4 separate regions of the Homo sapiens genome follow, and regions 2, 3 and 4 are each linked to region 1. The links come from fine-mapping of genetic effects on gene expression. A gene starts in region 1. Each other region holds a variant in brackets. All regions are shown on one strand. Distances are from middle to middle.

Region 1 (2,685 bases):
CCCTCTGGCCCCACTTACTGTTGCTGGACTTGAGGTCCCGGTGCAGGATGGGCACGAAGGCCTCCTCATGCAGGTAGAGCATGCCCCGCGCTATCTGCACGGCCCAGTTGACCAGCACGTGCGGAGGGATGCGGCGCGCGCGGCGGGGGCCGGGCGCGCGCGGGTCCGGGGCGGCGTTGGCAGCGGCCAGCGCTCGGTTGAGCGCTCCGCCGCGGGCGAACTCCAGCACCAGGCAGAGGTGCGGCTGCTGCAGGCACACGCCGCGCAGCTCGATGATGTTGGGGTGCCGCAGCATGGCGAAGAGCCGAGCCTCGCGCCGCACGCTCTCGGCAGCCGCCGCCGCGTCCTGCTCCGGGTCCTGGCGCGCCGCCTTCACGGCCACCTCCTGGCCCTGCCAGGTGGCGCGGTACACCTGCCCGAAGCCCCCAGCGCCGATGAGCTCCTTCAGCTCCAGCCGCTCGAAGGCGACGTGTACCGGGGAGCTGGGCCGCGAGGGCGGCGGCGCGGGGCTGGCGGCCGGGCGGCAGGGAGCCACGTAGTTGGCGGGGAAGATGCCGAGGCGCCGCTGCACCTGGCCTGCCCACCAGCCCTCGTCGCCCGACACGGCGGCGTCCTGCGACAGCACCTCCACCAGCTGGCCGCGCCGCAGGCTCAGCTCGTCCTCGCCGCGAGCCTCGTAGTCATAGAGCGCGGCCCACAGCCCCGCGCCCGCCGAGGCCGAGCCGCCCGAGGAGGTGGACGACGAGGACGCTGAGCCGCCGGGGGCTCCCCCGGCCGAGGACACCGGGGTGTCGGTCGCTCCCGCGGCGCCCCGCAAAGCCATGGGGGCAGCTGCGCGGGGAAGGCGGAGCGGGAAGCTGGGCTCAGCCTCCCGGGCGGCCGCGGGCGCGCATCGTCCGGCGGTGTGGCCGTCGGCGCCGGGGGAAGGCGAGGGGGTAGGAATCGCGATCGGTGACGGCAGAGATCACGGGCTAGCTGCCCAAAGGGTCCAGCCTCGGCCCGCGTTCCTGGCCAGCCGCCTCTGCTGCCGCAGCGGTCCCCGAAGCCGCGGGCGACGTCCCACCATGGTCGTGCCCAGGCCCTGCGGCCGGCCCGCCCGCCGCGCGCTCCTTAGCCAGAGCCTGGGACGCCCCACCCCACCCTAGCCGCGCCAGGGCCGCCCCGCCCCCTCCGGCTCCATTCCGCACCGCCCCCCCACCCCCCCGGGCCCGCCCCTAGGCCAGTCCCCAGGGCCTTCCCGCCCCTCCCCCAGCCGCCCCGCCCTCTCCAGGTTCATTCCGCCCTCCTTGACCCGTCCCGGGCGCCCAGTCTGCGCCCGCCCTATGGGACCGCCTTCCTAGGTTCGCCCCACCCTTCCCCACCAACTGCACCATCCCGCCCCGCCCTCGCCAGGTTCACTTCCCTTTTCTGTGCCAGTCCCCAGAGCCTCGTCCCGCCCCTGGCGCCCGGGCCCGTCCCCCACCACCTTGGGCCGGGCCCGCCCCCTGGGCCCGCCTGGCTGGTCCCACCCCGCCCCCGCCGCAGGTGCTCCGGAGCAATGGTGAGCCGCGCCCACATGGTCTGGGAGGCGGGATCGGCCGTCATCCGCTATAAATTTTCGGGAGAGTTTAAATTAAGCCAAAGGTAAGACTGAGGGAGGGGACGCTTCTCCAAGAAGCGGTGGGAGAGGGTTGAGAAGATGTGGGGCTTTAGGGTGTGGCGGGGAGAGAGAGAGTTGCAGTTCAGGGAGAGTGACAGAATCTCAGAACGGGCTACAGAAGAAATTGTAGCGCGGTGCCAGACCTGGGCCAGTGCGAGTGGCAAGTCACCATGCTAAGTGCGTTTGAGCCACCGTGCATCTCAGAACTGACTAGGTTACAGATCGCAGCGCAGAGTGACCCGTGGTCGGTATAGTCCCAGAAGCTCCATGATGGTAAATCCTTTGCTTATTTTTACTGTCTACTCAGATGGAAAATGCCCCAGTCTCCCTGGAAACCCACAGGTTTGGGTTTAGGAAGCATTGGCAATGGCTGGGTGCCAGACGTTGGTAGGTTACTGTGGCAGGTGATGAGGCTAAAAAGATAGAAGAGCTTAGTTATTAAAATTCTAAAATATTAGATTATCCTGTAGTAGGCCAGAATTTCCTAACGTGTGGATCCTGTACTTCCAATAACAGAAGGGACAATTTTAGATATTATGAGGATAGGACATACAGTAACATTCTGAGTTACATAAAGATAAATTTATTGTCTTTTCAGTTTTCTTTGTCTCTCAGATCAAACTATTTATTGGCTGTGTGACCTTGAGCAAGTTTCTTTATTTCTCTATGACTCAGTTTTCTCATCTATAAAATGGGAATATAATAAATAGTACCTACTTTATAGGGTTTTTAGGAAGACTAAATGAGTTAATAGTTTTACAGTGGGTCTTCTGCATCCACAGAATCAACCAACAGCTGGTCAAAAATGTTTTTTAAAAACCCAAAAAATAACAATACAAATAATACAAATAAAATACAGCATAACAACTATTTACAGAGCATTTACATTATATTAGGTATTATAAGTAATCTAACTATTTAAAGTATGGGCATACTTTGGAGATACTGCAAGCATGGTTCCAGATCACTGCAATAAAGCAAGTGACATGAATTTTTTGATTTCCCAGTGCATATATATACAAGTTATGTTTCCAGTATACTGTAGC
Region 2 (2,685 bases), 40 kb before region 1:
ATGGTGCGATCTCAGTGCACTGCAACCTCCACCTCCCGGGTTCAAGCAATCCTCCTGCCTCACCCTCCTGAGTAGCTGAGATTACAGGCGCACACCACCACACCTGGCTAATTTTTTTTTTTTTTTTTTTTGTATTTTACTAGAGACGGGGTTTCACCGTGTTGCCCAGGCTGGTTTCGAACTCCGTTAGGAAGCCTTCTATGATCACCTTAGACCAGGTTACATCTCTGCACTAGTCACTGTCATGTGACTTTTCCCTCACAGCAGCTAATGATTATAGAAGCAAATAAGTATTGAATTATTAGCTTAAGTTCTGCCCCCTCCCTCAATATAAGGTAAGTGCTCTATGGGCAGTGACCATGACAGTCTCCATGACTTCAGACTGGCACAGTGCCTTGCACATTACAGGTACTTAGAAAACTTTGCTGAATGAGTACTTTCTCTGTGGGAAACATGAGTGCAGAGACTGCATATATGTTTTATAATCACCCCTAGTACTGGGGACACAGCAGATCCTCAGGTGTTTGTTGACGGAGAAAGTTATGCAGGGTTCATCTACAGGATCAGGCTGGTGCTTGAAGTGAGTTGCTGAGGAATACACAGCAGGCTGGAGGAGATTTGGAAGACAAACCAAACGGAAAGGAAAGACCAAATGGGAGGCTCCTCCATCTGCTGAGTCATACTTTTTTTTTTTTAAAGACAAGATTTTACTCTGTTATCCAGGCTGGAGTGCAGTGGTGCAATCTCAGTCCACTGCAGCCTTGACCTCCCCTGGCTCAAGCAATTTTCCTGTCTCAGCCTTCTGAGTAGCTGGTACTACAGGCATGCACCACTATGCCCAGCTAATTTTTGTATATTTTTGTAGAAATGGGGTTTCACCATGTTGCCCAGGCTGGTCTTGAACTCCTGGGCTCAAGCAATCCACCTGCCTTGGCCTCTGAAAGTGCTTGGGATGACAGGCGTGAGTCACTGCACCTAGCCCCAAGTCATTCCTTTTGAAAGACTTGACCAGGGCAGAGCAGTTGAGGTAAAAAATTGACTAGACTAGGTGGTGGTAGTTGGGGGAAAGAGGTGGTCAAAGAAAAAAAATTCTTAACCATAGAAAGGAAACAGTTTAGACTAAAGTCATTTATAAATGTTCAGCTAGCCACCTGATTGTTACAACACGACAGAAACAAATGCTCTGAGAACTTTTACAGCAAGAGGAGCCCTCCTGTCAATAACAGAAGAAAGCCAAGAACCAAGCCACAGGATCTGATTGACAAGTTATTTGGAACAAATGATGGGACAATAAATACTAAGCACAGATCAGGAAACCAACATGGAACACGTGGAAAGCCACGGGTGAGAGCAGCAAAGATACAAGGCTGCATTTTAACAACACCTAAGATTCAGAGTGCTTCCAACCTTCCAAAAACACCTAAATACTTCCACTTGAAAAGCATACTTTATGTTGTAAACAGAAAGAAAACATTCTTTTTTTTTTTTTTT[TG/G]AGACGGAGTCTTGCTCCTGTCACCCAGGCTGGAGTGCAGTGGCGAGATCTCAGCTCACTGCAACCTTGCCTCTTGAGTTCAAACAGTTCTCCTGCTTCAGCCTCCTGAGTAGCTGGGATTACAGGTGCCTGCCACCACGCCCATCTAATATTTGTACTTTTAATAGAGATGGGGTTTCTCCATGTTGGCCAGGCTGGTCTCGAATTCCTGACCTCAGGTGATCTGCCTGCCTTGGCCTCTCAAAGTGCTGGGATTACAGGCATGAGCCACCACGCCCAGCCAACATTCTTTATCGTAAACATCCTTGTCCCTTTGAAGTAGGGAAAGGTTGAGTCTGTGCCAGCTAAACATTTGGGAAAACTAAAGCTGAATTGTTAAAATGCCTGTGGCCTGTGCTCAGATTTTCTTTGTACTCACTAGAATAATGGTTCTCAAGATGCCTGGTCATAGCAGCTATAGTTCAATCACAGGCTTGAGTAAAACCTATCCTAGTATTTTTGCTGGCAATATGAATATTTCACTAACAAAGCTAATTGCCTCAGTGGGAGGCTTCCATTTGCAGATGAAAAGGAATGTATTCTCTAAAGAATCCAGGTGAGGTTATATGCTCTCTCCCATCCACCCTTCTACTCACTCGCATACCTGTGAGGTAGATGGTTTTTGCAGGCTTTGGACACTTCTGAAGCAATCAAAGTTAGAATGCCACTGCTTTAGTGACATACCAACTTTTGGAGGCTTTAAAGCTTTTGTCTTGTATTAACGTGTCCAAAAAACACAACTTCAGTTAAAAGTAAACATAAACAGAAGGAGCAATCAATATAGAGTACTCACAAAATAAAAAGATGCACTGTGACCATGCTTTTTTCTCTTGCAAATTCCAAGAAAAATACTACATAATCACAAAGTATTGTTTTAAAATTATTATCCTAGATTATTACTGTCTTACTTTTTAAGCATTAATCTTCCTTATTTGGTAGCCAGCCATGAAGAAATTCCAGGAGGAAAAAAAAATCACTTTTGAGGTTTCTATCACTAAATCACCATAGCTATAAATACCCATAAGATTAAAAACGATCAGCAGTAATTCTCGAGGACAAAGTTACAAGAGAATGTAATGATTCATATTTAATACCAAGTTTTTGAAAGATCTGCAGGCACAAATATTAAAGGTCAGCTTGGAGGACTCTAGAAT
Region 3 (2,685 bases), 31 kb before region 1:
ATAAACAAAAAATCACTTGCCTAAGACTTCAGAAAAGAAAAAAATAAGATTGAAGAGAAAGCAGCAAAAGTAATCTTCCTTCTGAATAAATTTGAACACATTCAAAAGTAAATTTTAAAACTGGGGTATTAGAACCCTTTGAATACTTCAAAAGTATGAAGCACAAAAACATTCTTTCGGTTGATGAGATTACTAGCAGTAATATTTGTTGAATTGCTTGGCACAGGCCACTCTGGTAATGGCAAATCCAGATCCCTGGCAGTGGCTGTTAATCATTAACGGTGGCATGCCTCTGTGTGGGGGGTCACAGACAGGTGCATGCACAAAATGCACAAATACAGACACACAGAGATAAGGAGCCAGGAGTTTAGGGAGGACCCAGTATCTACGGAGGCTACGGCTTACTGAATAACACAGACCACAGCCAAGTTACTCACCATTAATTCCAAGTCTGATGCCTCCTACCTTAAGCAATCTGTGGACAAGAAAGGGAGATAGGGCACGTACACTATGCTTTTTACTTCATCAAAAAAGATGCAGCTGGAAACTTCGAAGCCAAAAAAAAGCATTATATATTCTTTAATTGTAAATCCAAAGGCTTACAGGGTAACATAAATGCTGTATTTCAAGGAACAATGCACAAAAATAAAACACAAAGTAAAAATAGACACTACTACATGGTAGCTCAAAAATCAACCAAAAAATAAATTACTACAAATCGCAAAGTAGAGAAAGAGCTGACATCCACCCTTGAAGCATGCTTTTATTTTAATACAACATATAATTATGAACTCACTAGAGATGCCTATATCTTCCAGTTTTATAAATAGTTGTCAATAATTAAAATACGTTAAAATAAGGCCGGGCCTGGTGGCTCATGCCTGTAATCCCAGCATTTTGGGAGGCCAGTGTGGGAGGATCACCTGAGATCTGGAGTTTGAGACCAGCCTGGCCAACATGGTGAAACCCCGTCTCTACTAAAAATACAAAAAAAATTAGCCGGGTGTGGTGGTGGGCGCCTGTAATCCCAGCTACTCGGGAGGCTGAGGCAGGAGAATCACTTGAACTCGGGAGGTGGAGGTTGCAGTGAGCCGAGACC[A/G]CACCACTGCACTGCAACCTGGGTAACAGAGTGAGACTCTGTCTCCAGATAATAACAATAATAATAATTTTTTTTTTTGAGACAGGGTCTTGCTCTGTCGCCCAGGCTGGAGTGCAGCAGTTTAGTCATAGCTCACTGCAGCCTCAACTTACCAGGCTCAAGCAATCCTCTCACCTCGGCCCCCAACAAAGTGCTGGGACTACAGCTGCAAGCCATCACACCCAGCCAGTAACTAATTGTGAGTAACATCATTTCCAAATTTTAGATTCTATGATTTGAAGCTTTATTTCTTTCTCAAACGCTTTTCCTGCTCTTCAAAATCTTTTTCATTTTTGTAATTAAACACCTAATTTTAGAATTCCTGAAAACAATTTGGGGAAGTGTTAAAAAAAAAAAAAACAAATTAGAGTCTTTCCTGTATCATTTTAAGTCAACAAAGTGCATAAAAGTTTCCAAGAAACATGTCAATGATATCACTGGTAGTAATGCTTCACAGAACTGCAGGATGTCAAACCTATTCCAGTCAGTGGTGCTCCAGCCAGTTTTCCAAGAAAGCCTGGGCTAGGGAAACTCAGCTTCTGTGAAAGGTCACCACTTTCTTTTTTTTTCCTGAGACTAACACTTAATTTAGCACATACTAAGAGGTAGGGCTCTGGCTGCTTTGCATACAGGACTCACTTAAGCCCCGCCCAAGCCCTGAGGGACACAGGGTTACAGTGATGGCTCCAATGATGAGGAGGTACAGAGTAACAGAGTCAGAGGCCTCAAAACCATCAGGCACACCTAGAACTTAAAGTATAAAAAAAAAAAAAACCCATCAGGCACAAGAGCCCGAATGCCAACAGGGCTGTCTGACTCAGAGTTCCTGGTGGGGGGTGAGGGAGGTCTATCATATTTTTCAGAATCCCATAAAGACTTCCCATTCAGTCTTGTCCTGGAGAAGGAAACAGGCAGTCACCCAAGCAGTCTATTTCTCTGTCAGCCAGCTCCAAGTGCTAGCAAGTCGTTGACTTGGAGACCAGATTGCCATCCCTGCAGCATTCACCCAGAAGTCCTACTGCGTAACTCTGGAATAACAAGCAACTGGTTTCTTCTCTCCCTACTTGAAAGTCCTCCCCATGCATGGGCAGCCCCAGCAGTCCCCACCCCCTTGTGTGCTGTGTGTTCTTCCTGTTCTTGGACTCCCAGGCTCCCCCATCCTCTCCCATGCATGCCAGGAGGCTCCTTAGGACATGATGCTCGCAGTCAGACGCAACTCCATGGGTTTGAGCAGAACAGGGCAGGTGGGATTGGTGCCTCTCCTTGATGAACTCTAAGTACTCATTAGTGGTGTCATGGTCTTACGTTGCATTTACCTGTTGTGCATTTTTCAATGTAACCAAATACTGAAAAATCTAAGGGACAGAGTGAATTACCTGTATGTCTACTTTATTTTTTTATTTTTATTTTTATTTTTTCTTTTTTTTTTAATTATACTTTAAGTTCTAGGGTACATGTGCACAACGTGCAGGTTTCTTACATATGTATACATGCGCCCTGTTGGTGTGCTGCACCCATTAACTCATCATTTACATTAGGTATATCTC
Region 4 (2,685 bases), 130 kb before region 1:
CATAAGAGTTATCAAAGAATGAAAAAATGACTGAAAATATTTATTTTTACCAATTAATTATTTTGGCCTGTTTTTTGTTTGTTTTTACTAAATTATTCTTTCTGTCCATTGCGTGCTGAGGGGAATCAGAAGAAATAGAATTTGGGCAGAGATACAAAGAGTCAGCGGGGAAGGAGGATGATGAGAGGAGGAGAAGCAGAGGAAAAGAAAAAAGAAGTAGACAGGTGTTTACAATGTTAAAAGTGAAGCAAAACTTAGAAGACATTCCATACAAACCCACATACGTACGTAGACTAACTTATTTTGTGATAGAAGCCAAGTCTCTCATTCTGTACTTTCCTCTCGGAGTGGTGTGTGATCTGCAGATACACTTTTCTCTCCATTTTCACCCGACATTTAAGTGGAGACAACTCTCCCATCTCTGCTGTTAGAGACAGTGAGGTTGTCTAGGCACACACTGTTCTAACACAACTGAGGGTTCGAGGCAGTCAGGGCACTGCATGCAAAGTCACCAGCATGTCAGCCCACAAAATTGAACACCCAGAGAAGCTCAGGGCTGACCCCAAAAGAGCCAAAAAGACTTCCTCCCCAAAATGCCTTCTTGCCTCACCCCCCCACCTGCTTTTTTTTTTTTTTAGACAGATTCTCACTCTGTTGCCCAGGCTGGGATGCAGTAGAGTGATTATAGCTCACTGCAGCCTTGAACTGCAGAGCTCAAGGGATCCTCCTGACTCAGCCTTTCACATACCTGGGAGTACAGGTGAACCCTACCACACACAGCAAATTTTTAAAATTTTTTGTAGAGATGGTGTCTCACTATGTTGCTCAGGCTGGTCTCAAACTCCTGGCCTCCAGCAATCTTCCCATCTTCCAAGTGCTGGAATTACAGGCTTGGGCCGCTGCACCCTGCCCTGCTCCATTTATACATGGCAACTCCCACTGTTAAAAATACGCTAACAAAGAACAAGCAAAATGTGACAAGATCATATTTTCACTTCCTTGCATTTCACAAATCGACTACAACCAGCTAAGTGGGACCTCAGAAAAAAATGTGGGCATCACTGTCTGTCCCGCAGCAAGGGCCAACCTTAGCCCATTCATTTGTCCAATAAGTGTGTGTTGAGCACCTACTACCTGCCAAGCCCTGGGGCGAGAGCAATACAGACTATGACCTTTCGAACAAAAGAGACTGGGTCCATGGGGAACGCTGGTGACAGCTGACCTTATGGGAAGGTGCTGCTGAGAACCAGCCCAGGGGAGATTCCAGCGCACAGACGGGCTGTG[C/A]CCCACATGTGGGTAAGGGGAGTCTTCTCAAAGAGGGGTGTCAGGAAGCAGGGGCAAACTGCAGTTTGTTCCCCAAGACTAGAGCCAAAAGCCTGTTGTGAGGCCGTTGCAGTGACGCAGCTGGGAGACAGACCATCAGAGCCCCAGCTGCAGCAATGGGTCTGGGAAGAGATTTAAAACACATTATGGGTGGGGAGAAGTAGCAGAGCTTGTGGCAGCCCCCAGGCCAGAAACGGAAAAGACAATTCCAAATATTTAGGGTATCAAAGATTTAACCAACTCAGAATTTAGTGACAATTACTGATTTGCTGCTTGATTTGAGCCAGGCTCATCTGCACGTTTGGGGCCTCTGCTGAGACAGGCTTCTGTCTGCACATGGTTTCTCTTCCTCAAGGAGACCAGCCTGGAGATAATCTCAGTGGAGATTATTGACAGATGACAATTTTCCCTACCTTGTTCAGGAGGCAACAGCATTGCAAGAGGGGAAGAGGGAAGCTGCAATGCCTCTCGAGGCCCCAGCTTAAGACACACACGGCATTCCTGTGCTGTGTTCTGTCAGTCTCAGTGGTCACAGGGCCAGCCCAGATGGACAGGTGGACCAAGAGGTTCCATCTGTACATAGGAGGAATGGCAAAGAATTTATGATCATTTTTAATTATCAGTCAGGATTCAGTAAGGATCTGCAGGTCCTGAGCCACCCACTCTATGTCTGACTTTCCCTCAAAGATACTCGGCTTCCCCCGTGTTTCCACCACTCAGGTGCGCTGTGACCAGGTGGCCTGTATCGTCAATGCCTGCCCCAGTTCAGAACTCCCCCAGGCCTCAAAATGCCAGATTGCCAGTGAGCCAGTGACTCCAGACCCCTCCTAAGGCTGGTTGAATAGGAAAGCAAAACCTTTGCATTCTGTCTGGCCATCAATCCAAGCCCTAACCTGCTTCATTGCTTGGTAGCCTCTTGATTGACTCCCTCTGTTACCCAAAAAAAAAACCGGGGTTCATTTGCCTGGCAAGTAACAAATGCCTCCTTAAGAGAATGCAGGGTTTTTTTAAATCAATTGTTTGTTTGTTTGTTTGAAAGGAGGTCTAATTCTGTCACCCAGGTTAGAGTGCAGTGGTGCAAACTAGTTCACTGAAGCCTTGACCTCCTAGGCTCAAGTGATTCTTTCACCTTGGCCTCCAAAAGTGCTGGGATAACAGGCATGAGCCACTGCACCTGGCCCCATAGGATAATTATTACTTGGTACAAGTAAGGAGTATAAACCAAAAAGTGTCTGAGACAGGTCTCAATCAATTTGGAAGTTTATTTTGCCAAGGTTGGGGACACACCCATGACACAGCCTCGGGAGGTCCTCAGAACATGTACCCAAGGTGGTCTGGCTGCAGCTTGATTTTAGGGAGACA

Which allele goes with the higher level. Positions count from the first base shown, and alleles are read on the strand shown. Sizes are in standard deviations (SD) of each study's normalised expression. Not every link is listed here.
In carriers of allele TG in region 2, the expression in monocytes after interferon gamma of the gene that starts at base 1,128 in region 1 tends to be lower than with G alone (large effect, 1.3 SD a copy in Fairfax 2014).

What was found. PIP is the estimated chance that this variant, and not a neighbour inherited with it, causes the effect. A credible set is the group of variants that fine-mapping cannot tell apart.
Region 2: its variant is the best candidate, but not a certain one, in a credible set for the expression of MAP3K21 in monocytes after interferon gamma (Fairfax 2014, PIP 0.70).
Region 3: its variant is the best candidate, but not a certain one, in a credible set for the expression of MAP3K21 in lung (TOPMed, PIP 0.51).
Region 4: its variant is the best candidate, but not a certain one, in a credible set for the expression of MAP3K21 in whole blood (INTERVAL, PIP 0.84).

Annotation. Positions count from the first base shown.
Region 1 is chr1:233,326,167-233,328,851 of GRCh38, reverse strand. It overlaps MAP3K21 (mitogen-activated protein kinase kinase kinase 21), which reads right to left and starts at 1,128. Exons shown (of 10, transcript NM_032435.3): 1 at 19-1,128. The coding sequence starts at 823. It also overlaps a transcript of PCNX2 not described here. RefSeq lists silencers at 485-684, 874-1,025, 825-1,124, 1,315-1,614.
Region 2 is chr1:233,366,667-233,369,351 of GRCh38, reverse strand. The region is part of intron 5 of MAP3K21 (mitogen-activated protein kinase kinase kinase 21); the gene reads right to left. Among named protein-coding and RNA genes, the nearest start is that of MAP3K21, 40 kb to the right of the region's middle. The variant TG/G (reference allele first, on the strand shown) is at 1,492.
Region 3 is chr1:233,357,287-233,359,971 of GRCh38, reverse strand. The region is part of intron 4 of MAP3K21 (mitogen-activated protein kinase kinase kinase 21); the gene reads right to left. Among named protein-coding and RNA genes, the nearest start is that of MAP3K21, 31 kb to the right of the region's middle. The variant A/G (reference allele first, on the strand shown) is at 1,100.
Region 4 is chr1:233,453,754-233,456,438 of GRCh38, reverse strand. No RefSeq gene overlaps it. Among named protein-coding and RNA genes, the nearest start is that of MAP3K21, 130 kb to the right of the region's middle. The variant C/A (reference allele first, on the strand shown) is at 1,285.